Linked DNA regions of Homo sapiens. The protein of the gene in region 1 purifies or fractionates together with the protein of each later gene. This does not show direct contact. Each region holds a gene or a part of one and is shown on either strand. Other genes may lie near its edges.

Region 1 (3,500 bases):
TTTAAATTATCTCTAGATTATTAATACCTAATACAGTGTAAACACTGGTGTCTCATATAAGTGGAATCATACAGTATTTGTCTTTTTGTATCTGTCTTATTTCACTTAGCATAATGTCCTGCAGGTTTATCCATGTTGTAGCATATATCAGATTTGATTCCTTTTAAAGGCTGAATAATGTTCCATTGTATGTGTATGTGTATGCCGCATTTTGTTTATCCATTCATCTGTTTCTGTTTCCTTTTAGACTGTGAGAACATTCTCTTTGAAGGGAATGACTACCAAGCTCTTTGGTCAAGAAACTCCAGAGCAGAGAGAAGCCAGAATAAAGGTGCTAGAAGAACAAATAAATGAAGGAGAACAACAGCTAAAGTCTAAAAATCTGGAAGGCAGGTAAAGATGCTGCGATGTTTAAGTAAGCTAGGCTTGTAGACTATATGGTAGATTATTTTATTTATTTATTTATTTATTTTGGTAACAATTCCCAGCTTCATTGGCATCCCTGAATACAGCCTATTCCTTTAAAATGCATTCCTAAGAAATTTGAGTTATCACGCTGGGTGTGGTGGCTCACGCCTGTAATCCTGACACTTTAGGAGGCTGAGGTGGGAGGATTGCTTGAGCCTGGGAGTTTGAGACCAGCCTGGGCAACGTAGGAAGACCCTGTCTCTACAGAAATAAATAAATAAATAAATAAATAAATAAAAATAAAAGAAAGTTGAATTATCAAAAATAATGTTATAGAAACAGTTGTTTCAATGTGGGGGAAAGAGAAATAAAAGTTTCAACTTCATAATATTATTTTCCTGCACTATTCCTGATTTCTACCCTTTGTACTTTCCCTCCACCATTTCTTCTCCCCTCCCCTCCTTCAGTACCCAGCTGAAGTGTTACTTCATTGTGAAGCCTTCTCAGGCTATCACGGCATTTAATTCATGCCAGTATGGTATGGCAGTTTTGTATTAGATGATTGATTGTTCTGTGTGACTATCCCTGGCTAAATTTAAGCCCTTCAAAGTCAGTGATTGTATCTTTTCCACATTCACATCCCAGTGCCTTACATAGGGCTTAGCATGTAATTGTTACATAAGTATTTCTAGAAATTCAGTTCTCAGAGACCCACTATCACTGTTTGACTCATTTTTCTTATTTTTGTTTTCATCTGACAGTCAGTGAATAGACCAAGGCAGACCAAGAGTGTATTTTGGGTTTTGAGGTGGTTTTGTTCATTTTTAGAACTACTAGCACCAAATATGGCAAAGTAATAGATAGAATTAAAAAAGACAGGCCGGGCGCGGTAGCTCATGCCTGTAATCCCAGCACTTTGGGAGGCTGAGGTGGGTGGATCATGAGGTCAGGAGTTTGAGACCATCCTGGCTAACATGCTGAAACCCTGTCTCTACTAAAAACCAAAAAAATTAGCCGAGCGCGGTGGCAGGCGCCTACAGTCCCAGCTACTCGGGAGGCTGAGGCAGGAGAATGGTGTGAACCTGGGAGGTGGAGCTTGCAGTGAGCGGAGATCACGCCACTGCACTCTAGCCTGGGCGACAGAGTGAAACTCTGTCTCCAAAAACAAATACCTCTCGGGATTTTAATTTTTATTATTATTTTTCATTTTTTTGAGACGGAGTCTCACCCTGCTGCCCAGGCCGGAGTGCAGTGGTGCCATTGTTGCTCGCTGCCACCTCAAAGTCCAGGGCTCAAGTGATCCTCCCATCTCAGCCTCCCGAATCACTGGGACTACCGGCTACCAAGCCTGGCTAAAAAAGTTTTTAAACTTTGGTTGTGATTTAAAACAAGTACATGCAGCTGGCCGTGGTGGCTCACACCTGTAATCCTAGCACTTTGGGAGGCCTAGGAGAGTGGATTGCCTGAGGTCGGAAGTTCAAGACCAGCCTGGCCAACATGGTGAAACCTTGTCTCTACTAAAAATACAAAAAATTAGCCGAGTGCAGTGGCGTGTGCCTGTAATCCCAGCTACTCTGGAGACTGAGGCAAGAACCCTGGATGTGGAGGTTGTGGTGAGCCAAGATCACGCCTCTGCACTCCAGCCTGGGCTACAGAGCGAGACTTGGTCTCAAAAAAAAAAAAATGCTAAACGTGATTCATAATCCATCTTGTCAAAAGAGTGTATATTTTCCAGTGACCCCTGGAAGGCACTTACTTCATTGTGACTGACACCTGTTAGGTTTGTGAGCTGGCTTAAGGAGTCATCTATGTGTATTTTATAGGAATAATTTAAAGGTAGAATCCTTGTGGCAAAAACTTAGATTATTAGGCCAGGTGCAGCGGCTCACGCTGTAATCCCAGCAGTTTGGGAGGCTGAGGTGGGCAGATCACCTGAGCTCAGGTGTTCAAGCCCAGCCTGGCCAACATGGTGAAACCCTGTCTCTACTAAAAATACAAAAATTAGTTGGGCGTAGTGGCGTGTGCCTGTAATCCCAGCTACTCAGGAGGCTAAGGCAGGAGAATTGCTCAAACCCGGAATGCAGAGGCTGCAGTGAGCCAAGATCACGCCACTACACTCCAGCCTGGGCAACAGAGTGAGACTCTGTCTCAAAAAAAAAAGAAAAAGTAGATTAAAAGGTACAAGAATATATGACTGTCTGTTTGCTTTTTCCCTAACTATAATTTTTAGGAAAATAAAAAAACTGTCTTATACAAGCAATAACTCTTCCTTCTACATAGGCAATTAAAAACCAACGCCAATGAGAACTGGTTAACTTTTTAGTACACAGTTTATTTAACTTAAATAATAATAATGGCTATACCTTTTATTTCAGAGAATTTGTGAAAAACGCATGGGCTGATATTGAACGCTTCAAAGAACAAAAGAACCGAGACTTAAAGGAGGCCCTCATAAGCTATGCAGTCATGCAGATCAGTATGTGCAAAAAGGTAGGGTTTTTCCTGTTTCAGTGAAGATATATGTATATTCAGAAGTGCTTATACATGTATTTAAATTACCTGACCAAAAAATTTTTCATTTTTATTCTTCTCTTGTAGAATGTTTACCAATTTCTCTATTTTAATTTTGTAGGATTTCTGTTTTATTTTGTTTTGGTTTTTTTATTTTAAAATTTTAAATATTTAAAAAATAGATATGGGGGGGTCTCGCTATGTTGCCCAGGCTGGTCTCGAACTCCTGGCCTCATATAGTCCTCCTGCCTCGGCCTCCCAAAGTGCTGCAATTACAGGTGCGAGCCACCATGTCCAGCCTCTACTGGTGTTACAACCAGTATGCCCATTACTGAGTCTCCACTCATCTAAAGTCCAAATTTGTATCTCCATTTATAACTTGTATTTGAGAATATATACCAAGATTATTTAGATCATATGGTACTCTTGGACCAGACAGTAAAATACCATTCCAGGTATATGCTTTGATTGGAAAATAGCTTGAACATTATTTCGTGAAGACCTGGTTATGATATGCTTCCTCATAAAGTAAATCATTTGTGTTGCTGATATCCATAGTGAAAGATACAAACATTGAAGCT
Region 2 (3,500 bases), on another chromosome or scaffold:
GAGACAGAGTCTCGCTCTGTCGCCCAGGCTGGAGTCCAGTGGTGCGATCTTGGCTCACTGCAAGTCTGCCTCCTGGGTTCAAGCGATTCTCCTGCCTCAACCTCCCGAGTAGCTGGGACTACAGGTGCACGCCACCACATCCAGCCAATTTTTTGTATTTTAGTAGAGATGGGGTTTCACTGTGTTGCCCAGGCTAGTCTTGAACTCCTGAGCTCAGGCAATCCGCCCACCTCAGCCTCCCAAAGTGCTAGGATTACAGGCGTGAGCCACCACGCTTGGCCTTGGGTCACTGGTTTATAAACTTCATCTCTGTACCTCCTTGTCATCCCACCTGGACTGGGGTGGTATTGGGCCCCTGAACTTGGGGTCCTGAGGGGGTCTCATGTCAACTCTGGGGGTCACTATTGTGGTCCAGCTTTGTATGTTTTGGAAAAGTGCTAATTGGAGGATAGCCACTTGTGGTTTTCTGGAATTTCCCTCCGGCATACCCCATTTTTGCCTTTTAGTTCTGTCTGTGTGGCCTTGGGCAAATCACTTGACCTCTCTGAGGTTTGAGTGCTTGAGAAGTGGGTTGGTTAGATGGTCTTCAAGGGCCTGCCAGCTCTTAAATATTATTTCAAACCCTTCTGCCGCTCTTACCTCTCCAGACTCCATGAGAGGAGAAGGGGGAACAGGGATGGGCTATGAGAAAAAGGAAGAAGAAATTTAACAAAGCTGAAAAGAGCCAAACTTATTCCGGGGGGTGGTGGGTTGGGGAGAAAAAATTCTGCCAAGGTAGTTATATCCCTGCAATTAATTAATGCTGTGAGACAAAAAATTGCACTAAAAATTTCTACTCCGTGTGTGTGTGTGTGTGTGTGTGTGTGTGTGTGTGTTTATTTGCCTTGGATTTTTCCTTACCTGAATCATGGAGATGCCCACCCATTCCCCTGAATTTAAAAGAAGTAAGTCAAATGGTCCTTCAGTCAGAAAAGTGATTTCTTAGCCACCAAGGACAAAATAGCGTCTCTGGTTACCAACCCTAAAGAATGTCTTGGCACATTCCTCCCTCTGGGGCTGAGCTGTTTTGTGTGCTGGCCGGCCAGGAGCTGCTGGGGGTAGGGAATCCAGTTTTCAGCTTCCCCTTTCACCAGGGGGTTGGAAGAGCAGCCAAGCAGCCAGCCTTGCCAACTCTCTCCCCTTCTCACCCAGGGGAAGACTGGGAGGCCGAAATTCCTGAGGATGGTTGTCCCAACAACCGGAGAGGGTCCAGTGGGCAGCTTGGGTCCTGCCCACTGGGCCAAAGGCTCCAGCAGCACCACAGGCTTTTCCTGAGTCAAGGCCAGCCTGGGAAGGTGACAGGCCCTTCGGGAATCAGGTGCTGTGGATCAGGTCTGAACAGCACCTTGGAGCCGTGCTCCTTTTGCGGAGTAACTCTGGGTGCTTTTGTGAGCTCTAGCGAAGGGGCCAGCGTCCTGTGTATTTCACTTCGTGGTATGCAAAACAAATGCACCGATTGTTCTCGGAGGAAGAATAGATCTTTGGGGCTGGCCCTCCCAGAGAAGGTTCCTGCAGCCTGATTCCTTCTTGTTGTGCGATTTGTATTCAGACCTTCTCATAGGAACCACCTGGGAATTCTGGGCAGTTTCTGGGTCTGTATGGTAAGTACCGGAGGCACACATGGCTGGAGAGGCCATGCTGAGAGGATCCAGCAACTTCTCCCATGACTTGAGGATCTTTTGCTAACCCTGTTATTTCAGAAATAATTGATATGGTAGGAAGTCAGGTCTACAGCAGTCAAAAAGTCTAAACCTCTGTCAGGTCACAGACCCTTATGAGACTGATAAAGGTTCAGAACTCTTCCTAGAGAAAAGGTTTTTGCACATAATTTCAGGGACCTCCTGGACCCCAGGTTCATAACCCCTGCCATAGATAAGCTTGGAAATTGCTTGTCACCATGGAAAGGCCTCCTGTTTAGCTAGGTAGCAAATAATGATTGGGTATTTACTATATTCAGGCAGTCTGCTGAGAGCTTTACATAGGTTATCTCTTTAAATCCTCCTAACAACCCTGGGACTAGGTACAATTATTACCCACCTGAACTACCCAATGCTCAGGGAGGCTTGGTAAAGCCCCTCAACCTTTGTGGAGCTGTGATGTGAATACTAGGCGGGCTCACACCAGAACACACATTTCTAACCACTGCCTCATTTTACTTCCTGCTGAGTTAGCTGCAGAATCAAGACCACTGCTCCAGTGCCTAAGGAATTTGGCCTTGGGAAATGGAGCCAAAACAGGCATGATTTCACTTACCTGTGACCATTCTGGTGTGGTCAGGTCATGGGCACCTAGAGGGCAAATGTAGATAAGTGAGTCTTTGGCTCCTGGAATCTTGGATCTGCCACTTGCTACCTGAGTTACCTTGGTAATTGACATATTGTCCCTGAACCTTGCGTTTGCCTTCTAATGAATGGAAAGATGTCCATCAACCATCAAGGGTAGTTATGGGTGATAAGTAAGTGAAGGTAGGTAGGGCAGCAAGCCTGAAGTCTGACATGCAGGGGACACTGAGGAATGCCAGTTCCTTTAACTTTTCCTAGAACGTACCTGTGAAACAGCAGCATCAAATGGATGCTGCATATCTACCCAATTTTGCAGCTGGAGTGGACCTTTCTGTTCGTGAAATCCAGGCCTCTCATTTCACTGATGAAATTGAGAACCAGCCTGGTGCGGTGGCTCATGCCTATAATCCCAGCACTTTGGGAGGCTGAGGCGGGCAGATCACCTGAGGTCAGGAGTTCGAGACCAGCCTGACCAATATGGAGAAACCCCATCTCTACTAAAAGTACAAAATTAGCCAGGCATGGCGGTGCATGCCTGTAATCCCGGCTACTCGGGAGGCTGAGGCAGGAGAATCGCTTGAATCCGGGAGGTGGAGGTTGTGGTGAGCCAAGATCGCGCCATTGCACTCCATCCTGGGCAACAAGAGCGAAACTCCATCTCAAAAAAAAAAAAAAAAAAAAAGAAATTGAGAACCAGAGACAAGTGACTTGCCCAAGGTCACACAGAAAATAAATGCCAACCTCGAGTCTAGTAAAAGTTTCTTTTTTCTCTTTCTCTTATATAAATTTTTTACTAAAAGTCAGATCTATGTCCTTCTCATCAATGATAATAATTCACACATATTTTATGTGCATGGCTGCATTATTCTCCATAATCGTTTTTGATTGTATAGACCAGGAAGTTGCATTCATCGTGCGTCACAATCATTTGTGAGTTGTGTCATAGGAATTTGCTGTATGTCAAATGATTACATTTCCAGTGATTGCAAGTGAATTCCTATTTTTATAATCAATTAAAATGGATTTAGAGTTATTGTCAGTCTAATGTCATATTCCAACAAGCTTTGTTTTATTTTATTTTATTTTATTTTGAGACTGAGTCTTGCTCAGTCACCCAGGTTGGAGTGCGGTGGTGCAATCTCAGCTCATTGCAACCTCTACTTCCCGGGTTCAAGCAAT
Region 3 (2,834 bases), on another chromosome or scaffold:
CAAAATGCTGGAATTACAGGAATCCAACATTTTTAATACAGTAAACCAAACAATTTCTAAGTTTACAATTTATCACAATGCTTAATGATTAAAAGTTGAATAAACTTTTCTAATGCAGTACACCTGGTTTCACAGAAAACAAAGCAACTCTTAAACACCAGCTGGCAAAATGATAGGGCTTTTCCTTTGAATTAGTCACCACAGGTGTGAAAGACAGAATGACTAATCCATCTGATTAAACATAGACCTTTTAGAAATCAATAACCTTATTTACACAGATGACAATTGCTACTGTTCCAAGGCTCCTAATCATGGTTCAGTTCTCAGGGCCTCAAGTCTTTTTCCATTCCATCGCAGAGTAGTACCAACATTTATACACCAGAAACCTGGGGATTATCCTGGCTTGTTTTTCTTCCTCTCCCAGATATGCTCACAACAGAGAAGCCAATCAATAAATATTGTTGAACTAAATGGTTAACAAATTCAAGCCCCTGAATCTCCATTATTCCATCTCCTCCACTACTGCCACTACCCTACTGTAAGCTATTCTATCATTCTTGCTAGGAGAGTTAGCTTCCCAACATCTTCTCTTCCCCATTCCAAACTATTATCCACATTGCAGCCAGACTGAAATTTTTATAACACAAATCAGATCAAGGCACTGCCTTGTTTATAAACCATTCGAAGGCTTTCCATTTTTAGGACTTTTTTTTTTTTTTTTTTTTTTGAGACAGGAGTCTCGCTCTGTCACCCAGGCTGGAGTGCAATGGCACGATCTCAGCTCACTGCAACCTCCACCTCCCGGGCTCAAGCAATTCTCCTGCCTCAGCCTCCCGAGTAGCTGGGATTAGAGGCGTGCACCACCATGTCCAGCTAATTTGGGGTTTCACCATGTTGCCCGGGCTGGTCTTGAAGTCCTGACCTCAGGTGATCCACCCACCTCGGCCTCCCAAAGTGCTGAGATTACAGATGTGAGCTACCATGCCTGGCCATTTTTAGGAAATTCTTAATATGGCCTATACAGCCCTGCATGATGTCTTTCTCTAAACAAAAACACAGAGATGCTACAGTACATTATCCCAACACTATAATTACAACCAGGTTATTGTTTTTACTTACTAGACTGAAAAGTGAAGAGTAAACAGTATTTTCCTTACCTTAACCTCTCCAGCCATTTTATCAACTGCAAATCCCTCAACTGATAGCTGCAAAACAATGGTTTTAAACAGTAAGTGAAACCAAGAGGCTGAGAACAAACTTCCATTTACCCTAAAAATAAATCATTCTGTTCTCTGCCAACTTCAGTCTGTTATAAAGGATGTGTGATGGGAGATGGAGAAGTCCTTAAATAAAGCCAGTAACTATTTAAGGAAACTTTTTTTTTTTTGAGACGGAGTTTCACACTTGTTGCCCAGGCTGGAGTGCAATGACCTCATCTCGGCTCACCACAACCTCTGCCTCCCAGGTTCAAGCGATTCTCCTGCCTCAGCCTCCCAAGTAGCTGGGATTACAGGCACACACCACCACGCTCAGCTAATTTTTGTATTTTTAGTAGGGACAGGATTTCACCATGTTGGCCAGGATAGTCTCGAACTCCCGACCTCAGGTGATCTGCCCACCTCGGCGTCCCAAAGTGCTGGTATTACAGGCGTGAGCCACTGCACCTGGCCACAGGAAACATTTAAAGAGCAAAGACCACAATGTATGGGTGTAGTGAATCATGGATGTCACTAAATAATATCCATGATTAGCAAGCTACTCAAAGTTTTTCACATACCTTTATTAGTCTGGATATTAAGAATCCTCCCTGGTATCGGTTATAAAGTTCTTCCCAGTTGTCCTTTATGAATTTCCAAGCAGCTTTCCTACCATGCTTGCTGCCTCCAGCTACTCCACCAATTACCGATACAGTGTCCTGTGGACGTACCTCTTCCTAAAAAAAGAAAGAGAGCTAAAAGTCTAGTGTATCAAAAACATATTCTGGTACCAGAAAGTGCACCATACTGTGACACTGAAGTAATCACACTGAAGACACTTATTCCTTGTTTTAGGAATAACTGGAACCAGAAGTTCTCAGCAAAGAAGATAATGTTTAAGCTAAAGATAACCAAAATGAGAATGAGGTACTGAGACAGGTTCAGACAGACAGACTGCTCAACAGATACTTGCTTAGGAGCCTATAGGTTTAAGAAAGGAAGAGACACAAAGTAAGCAAAGGCATAAGCCAGTTTCCCAGTTTTCAAGAGTCCCTGTCCTCATAGTTTCCATTCTGGAGAGACAATTTGTTTACTCTCCCAACTATTCTGATTCTCGCCACTAGTGGGAGAAAAACAGAAGTCAGTAACAAAAACTCAAGCCAGTTACTCTGGAAAAGGAAGCTTTAGTTAGGGTTAAGGCAGCTCAAGAGGATCAGAGCTGAATCAGAGACACTTCTCAGAGATGGGTAACGATTCACTTCTAAATGCAGTTTTCACCGTAACTTACTGAAAGTGCAAACGTGAGGACTTTTTGAATCAGGTCAGGCAAAAGAGTAGCGCCAAGGACTCTTTCGATTCGGTTTTTCTCTTCTTGCATATCTGCTTGTTTATGAAGCTACAGGAAAAAAGATAAAGATAGGAATAGTTAACTCTCCCTTGGATGTTCTGCATATGATTATATGAGCTTCTTCCCCAGTAAGGTAAAACTTAGGTTCTATATTCTCACTAGGTAAGAATGGCAGGGCATTATATTAAAGAAAGAGAATACTTTTCAAGATGCTTTGGGCCAGGTGCGGTGGTTCACACCTGTAATCCCAGCACTTTGGGAGGCCGAGGCGGGTGGATCACCTGAGGTCA
Region 4 (3,500 bases), on another chromosome or scaffold:
AAATCCTTTCCATCAGGTTTTCCGTTTACTTTGCCCAGATGCATCAAAGGGATCACTGTCTATGCAGCTACAACCTTGTAAATGTATTTCTTAAATAATAAGACTTGAAAATTGAAATTACTACTTGATCCATGGGCTGTAGAATGGATGTGCTGTGGCAGGCATGAAGACAACATTAATCTCTTTGTACATCTCCATCAGAGCGCTTGGGTGACCAGGTGCTTTTTAATGAGCTGTAATATTTGTTTGTTTTTTGAGTTTGTTTTTAAACTTTTTTTAATTAAAAAAAATAGTTTTTGAGACAGGGTTGTGCTCTCTTGCCCAGACTAGAGTGCAGTGGTGTGATCACAGCTCACTGCAGCCTTCACCTCCTGGACTCAAGCCATCCTCCCACTTCAGCCTCCTGAGTAGCTAGGACTACAGGCATGCACCGCCATGCTCGGCTACTTTTAAAAAGAATTTTCTTTTCTAGAGGTGGGGTCTTGCTATGTTGCCCAAGCTAGTCTTGAACTCCTGGCCTCAAATGGTCCTCCTACCTTGGCCTCCCAAAGTGCTGGCATTGTAGGTATGAGCCACCATGCCCAGCTGCGTGGTAATGTTTTGAAAGGAATCTTTTTTTCTGAGCAATAGGTCTCAACAGTGGGCTTAAAATAGTCAGCAAACCACACTGTAAACAGATCTGCTGTCATCCAGGCTTTGTGTTCCATTTGTAGAGCACAGGCAGAGTAATTTAGCGTAGTTCTTAAGGGCCCTAGGATTTAAAAAATGGTAACCCAGCATTGGCTTCAGCTTCAAGTCATCAGCTCCATGAGGCACTCACAAGAGAGTCAGCCTGTCCTTTGAAGTTTTGAAGCCAGGCATTGACTTCTCCTCTATAGCTGTGAAAGTCCTAGATGGCATCTTCTTCCAATTTAAGACTGTTTCACCTACACTGAAAATTTGTTGTTTATGGTCGCCACCTTCATTAAGTATCTTAGCTAGATCTCCTGGATAACTTACTGCAGCTTCTACATCAGCACTTGCTGCCCCATCTTGCACTCCTGTGTTATGGAGATGGTTTCTTTCCTTGAACCTTACAAACCAACCTCTGCTAGCTTCACACTTTTTTTCTGCAGCTTCCTCACCTCTCTCAGCCTTCATTGAATTGAAGAGAGTTAGGACGTTGCTCTGGATTAGGCTTTGGCTTAAGGGAATGTTGTGGCTGGTTTGGTCTTCTATCTAGACCACTCAGATTTTCTCCATAGCAGCAATAAGACTGTTTTGCTTCCTTATTATTTGTGTGTTCACTGAAATAACACTTCTAATTTTCCTCAGGAACTTTTTTTTTTTTGCATTCTATAAATGTTCAGAGTTCTAAACCTTTAAAAGGTTTCAAATACATGTATAAACACATTCTAGAATGTCACTCTGACTGTTGCTTCCTTTAACTTCAGTCTCATCTGCTCCTGGGAGGGAGAGCTCCATCTCTGACGTAGCTGGCTCTGTTGGGCTTTAGCGCCAGCCTGCTCCACCGAGTGGCGTTTTCAGGACCACTGCCTCTGGGCAGCTCTTCCACTCTGGCTACGGAGCGTATGTTGTAGAAATTTTGATTTCTCTCCCTGCCAACCTGGGATAGAGTTTGTTCGAATTTCCCCATGTGAGGCCTTGGGGTAACCGTGCCCATTTTGAGGAGGTGGGGGCTGGAAGGGAAGAGGAAGTGGAGAGAGATTGGAAAGAAAGTATAAAGAGTCCCCTTTGCTCCAGTTCCCAGCAAGTTCCTCATCTCCATCTGAGACTACCTCAGCCTGGACCTTATTGTCTATATCACTATCAGGCTTTTGGTCAAAGCCATTCAACAAGTCTCTAGAAAGTTCCAAGCTTTCCCACATTTTCCTGTCTTCTTCTGAGGCCTCCAAACTGTGCCAGCCTCTGCCTGTTACCCAGTTCCAAAGTCACTTCCACATTTTGGGTAACTTTTCAGCAGCACCCCACTCTACTGGTACTTATTTACTGTATTAGTCTGTTTTCATGCTACCGATAAAGACATACCCGAGACTGGGCAAATAGAGGTTTATAATGGACTTACAGTTCCATGTGGCTGGGGAAGCCTCACAATCATGGCGGAAGGCGAAAGGCACATCTCACATGACGGTAGACAAAAGAAGAGAGCTTGGGCAGGGAAACTCCCCTCTTAATTTTATTTTCTATTTATTTATTTATTTATTTATTTATTTTTTGAGATGGATTCTCGCTCTGTCTCCCAGGCTGGAGTGCAATGGCGTGATCTTGGCTCACTGCAACCTCAGCTTCCCAGGTTCAAGCGATTCTCCCTCCCTCTGCCTCCCAAGTAGCTGGGATTACAGGCACATGCCACCGTGCCTGGCTAATTTTTGTATTTTTAGTAGAGACGGGGTTTCCTCATGTTGGCCAGGTTGGTTTCGAACTCCTGACCTCAGGCGATCTGCCCGCCTTGGCCTCCCAAAGTGCTGGGATTATAAGCATGAGCCACAGAATCTGGCCCAACTCCCCTCTTTGAAACCATCAGATCTCATGAGACTTATTCACTGTCACGAGAACAGCACAGGAAAGACCCACCCCTGTAATTCAGTCACCTCCCATGACATATGGGAATTGTGGGAGTTACAATTCAAGATGAGATTTGGGTGAGGACACAGCCAAACCATATCAGCATGATAAGTATGATAAACCCCAGTGTCACAGGAGAAGCAAATATTGATGAGTCCTTTGCCTGAATCTTTTATAATTTCTGTACTATGCTGAACAGTCTGTCTCAACAAGGTGTCTTGTTGACAGACTGTTTCCTAGGTGCAAGTCTTGTCTTCTGTATTAAAGGGTAAGGCCTGGGACTTGAGGGCTTTGGCCTTTTGTCCTTGTTTTTTGAGACAGAGTCTCACTCTGTCGCACAGGCTGAAGTGCAGTGCTGCGATCTCAGCTCACTGCAACCTCTGCCGCCGGGGTTCTAGCAGTTCTCCTGCCTCAGCCTCCCAAGTAGCTAGGATTACAGGCGCCTGCCGCCGCGCCTGGCTAATTTTTGTAGTTTTAGTAGAGACGGGGTTTCACCATCTTGGCTAGGCTGGTCTTGAACTCCTGACCTCGTGATCCACCTGCCTCAGCCTCCCAAAGTGCTGGGATTACAGGTGTGAGCCACTGTGCCTGGCTGGCCTTTTGTCCTTTTAAAGTCTCTTGGTGGCCTTTGCACTGAGCATGCCCTGGGCGTACTGACTGACCTGTAGCTTGATCACCTCATTCTTTTTTTTTCCTACAGCCTCGTGCAAGCCGAATACTGGCATGACCCCATAAAGGAGGATGTGTATCGCAACCACAGCATCTTCTTGGCAGATATAAATCAGGAGCGGGTAAGCACCCAAACCGGGCTCCCATAGATGTGCGTTCTTTTTCCTGTTTAGGTCTTCATAAACAAATCAGCAGTGACTGTTTACCCAAACTGTCCTGGGCAGACACTAGGAAAGAGAAGTTCTGTTTTTTTTGGGAGGCAGGGC

What was found. Proteins that work in one complex are often made in the same cells at the same time.
Region 2: the proteins of SNX4 (region 1) and WWC1 purify together in Homo sapiens (co-immunoprecipitation; one study listed by IntAct). This does not show direct contact.
Region 3: the proteins of SNX4 (region 1) and NPEPPS purify together in Homo sapiens (affinity purification with mass spectrometry; one large-scale study listed by BioGRID and IntAct). This does not show direct contact.
Region 4: the proteins of SNX4 (region 1) and PPT1 purify together in Homo sapiens (co-immunoprecipitation; one large-scale study listed by IntAct). This does not show direct contact.

What each region holds. Positions count from the first base shown.
Region 1 is NC_000003.12:125,450,703-125,454,202, reverse strand, and holds part of SNX4 (sorting nexin-4), read left to right. Parts: intron 1-247; coding exon 248-393; intron 394-2,783; coding exon 2,784-2,898; intron 2,899-3,500. UniProt on the Homo sapiens protein: Involved in the regulation of endocytosis and in several stages of intracellular trafficking. Plays a role in recycling endocytosed transferrin receptor and prevent its degradation.
Region 2 is NC_000005.10:168,294,645-168,298,144, forward strand, and holds part of WWC1 (protein KIBRA), read left to right. Parts: exon of another isoform or gene 1-1,640; intron 1,641-3,500. UniProt on the Homo sapiens protein: Regulator of the Hippo signaling pathway, also known as the Salvador-Warts-Hippo (SWH) pathway.
Region 3 is NC_000017.11:47,618,108-47,620,941, reverse strand, and holds part of NPEPPS (puromycin-sensitive aminopeptidase), read right to left. Parts: intron 2,593-2,834; coding exon 2,485-2,592; intron 1,934-2,484; coding exon 1,778-1,933; intron 1,665-1,777; coding exon of another isoform or gene 1,570-1,664; intron 1,206-1,569; coding exon 1,158-1,205; intron 1-1,157. UniProt on the Homo sapiens protein: Aminopeptidase with broad substrate specificity for several peptides. Involved in proteolytic events essential for cell growth and viability. May act as regulator of neuropeptide activity.
Region 4 is NC_000001.11:40,080,253-40,083,752, reverse strand, and holds part of PPT1 (palmitoyl-protein thioesterase 1 isoform 1 precursor), read left to right. Parts: intron 1-3,265; coding exon 3,266-3,356; intron 3,357-3,500. UniProt on the Homo sapiens protein: Has thioesterase activity against fatty acid thioesters with 14 -18 carbons, including palmitoyl-CoA, S-palmitoyl-N-acetylcysteamine, and palmitoylated proteins. In contrast to PPT2, PPT1 can hydrolyze palmitoylated proteins and palmitoylcysteine.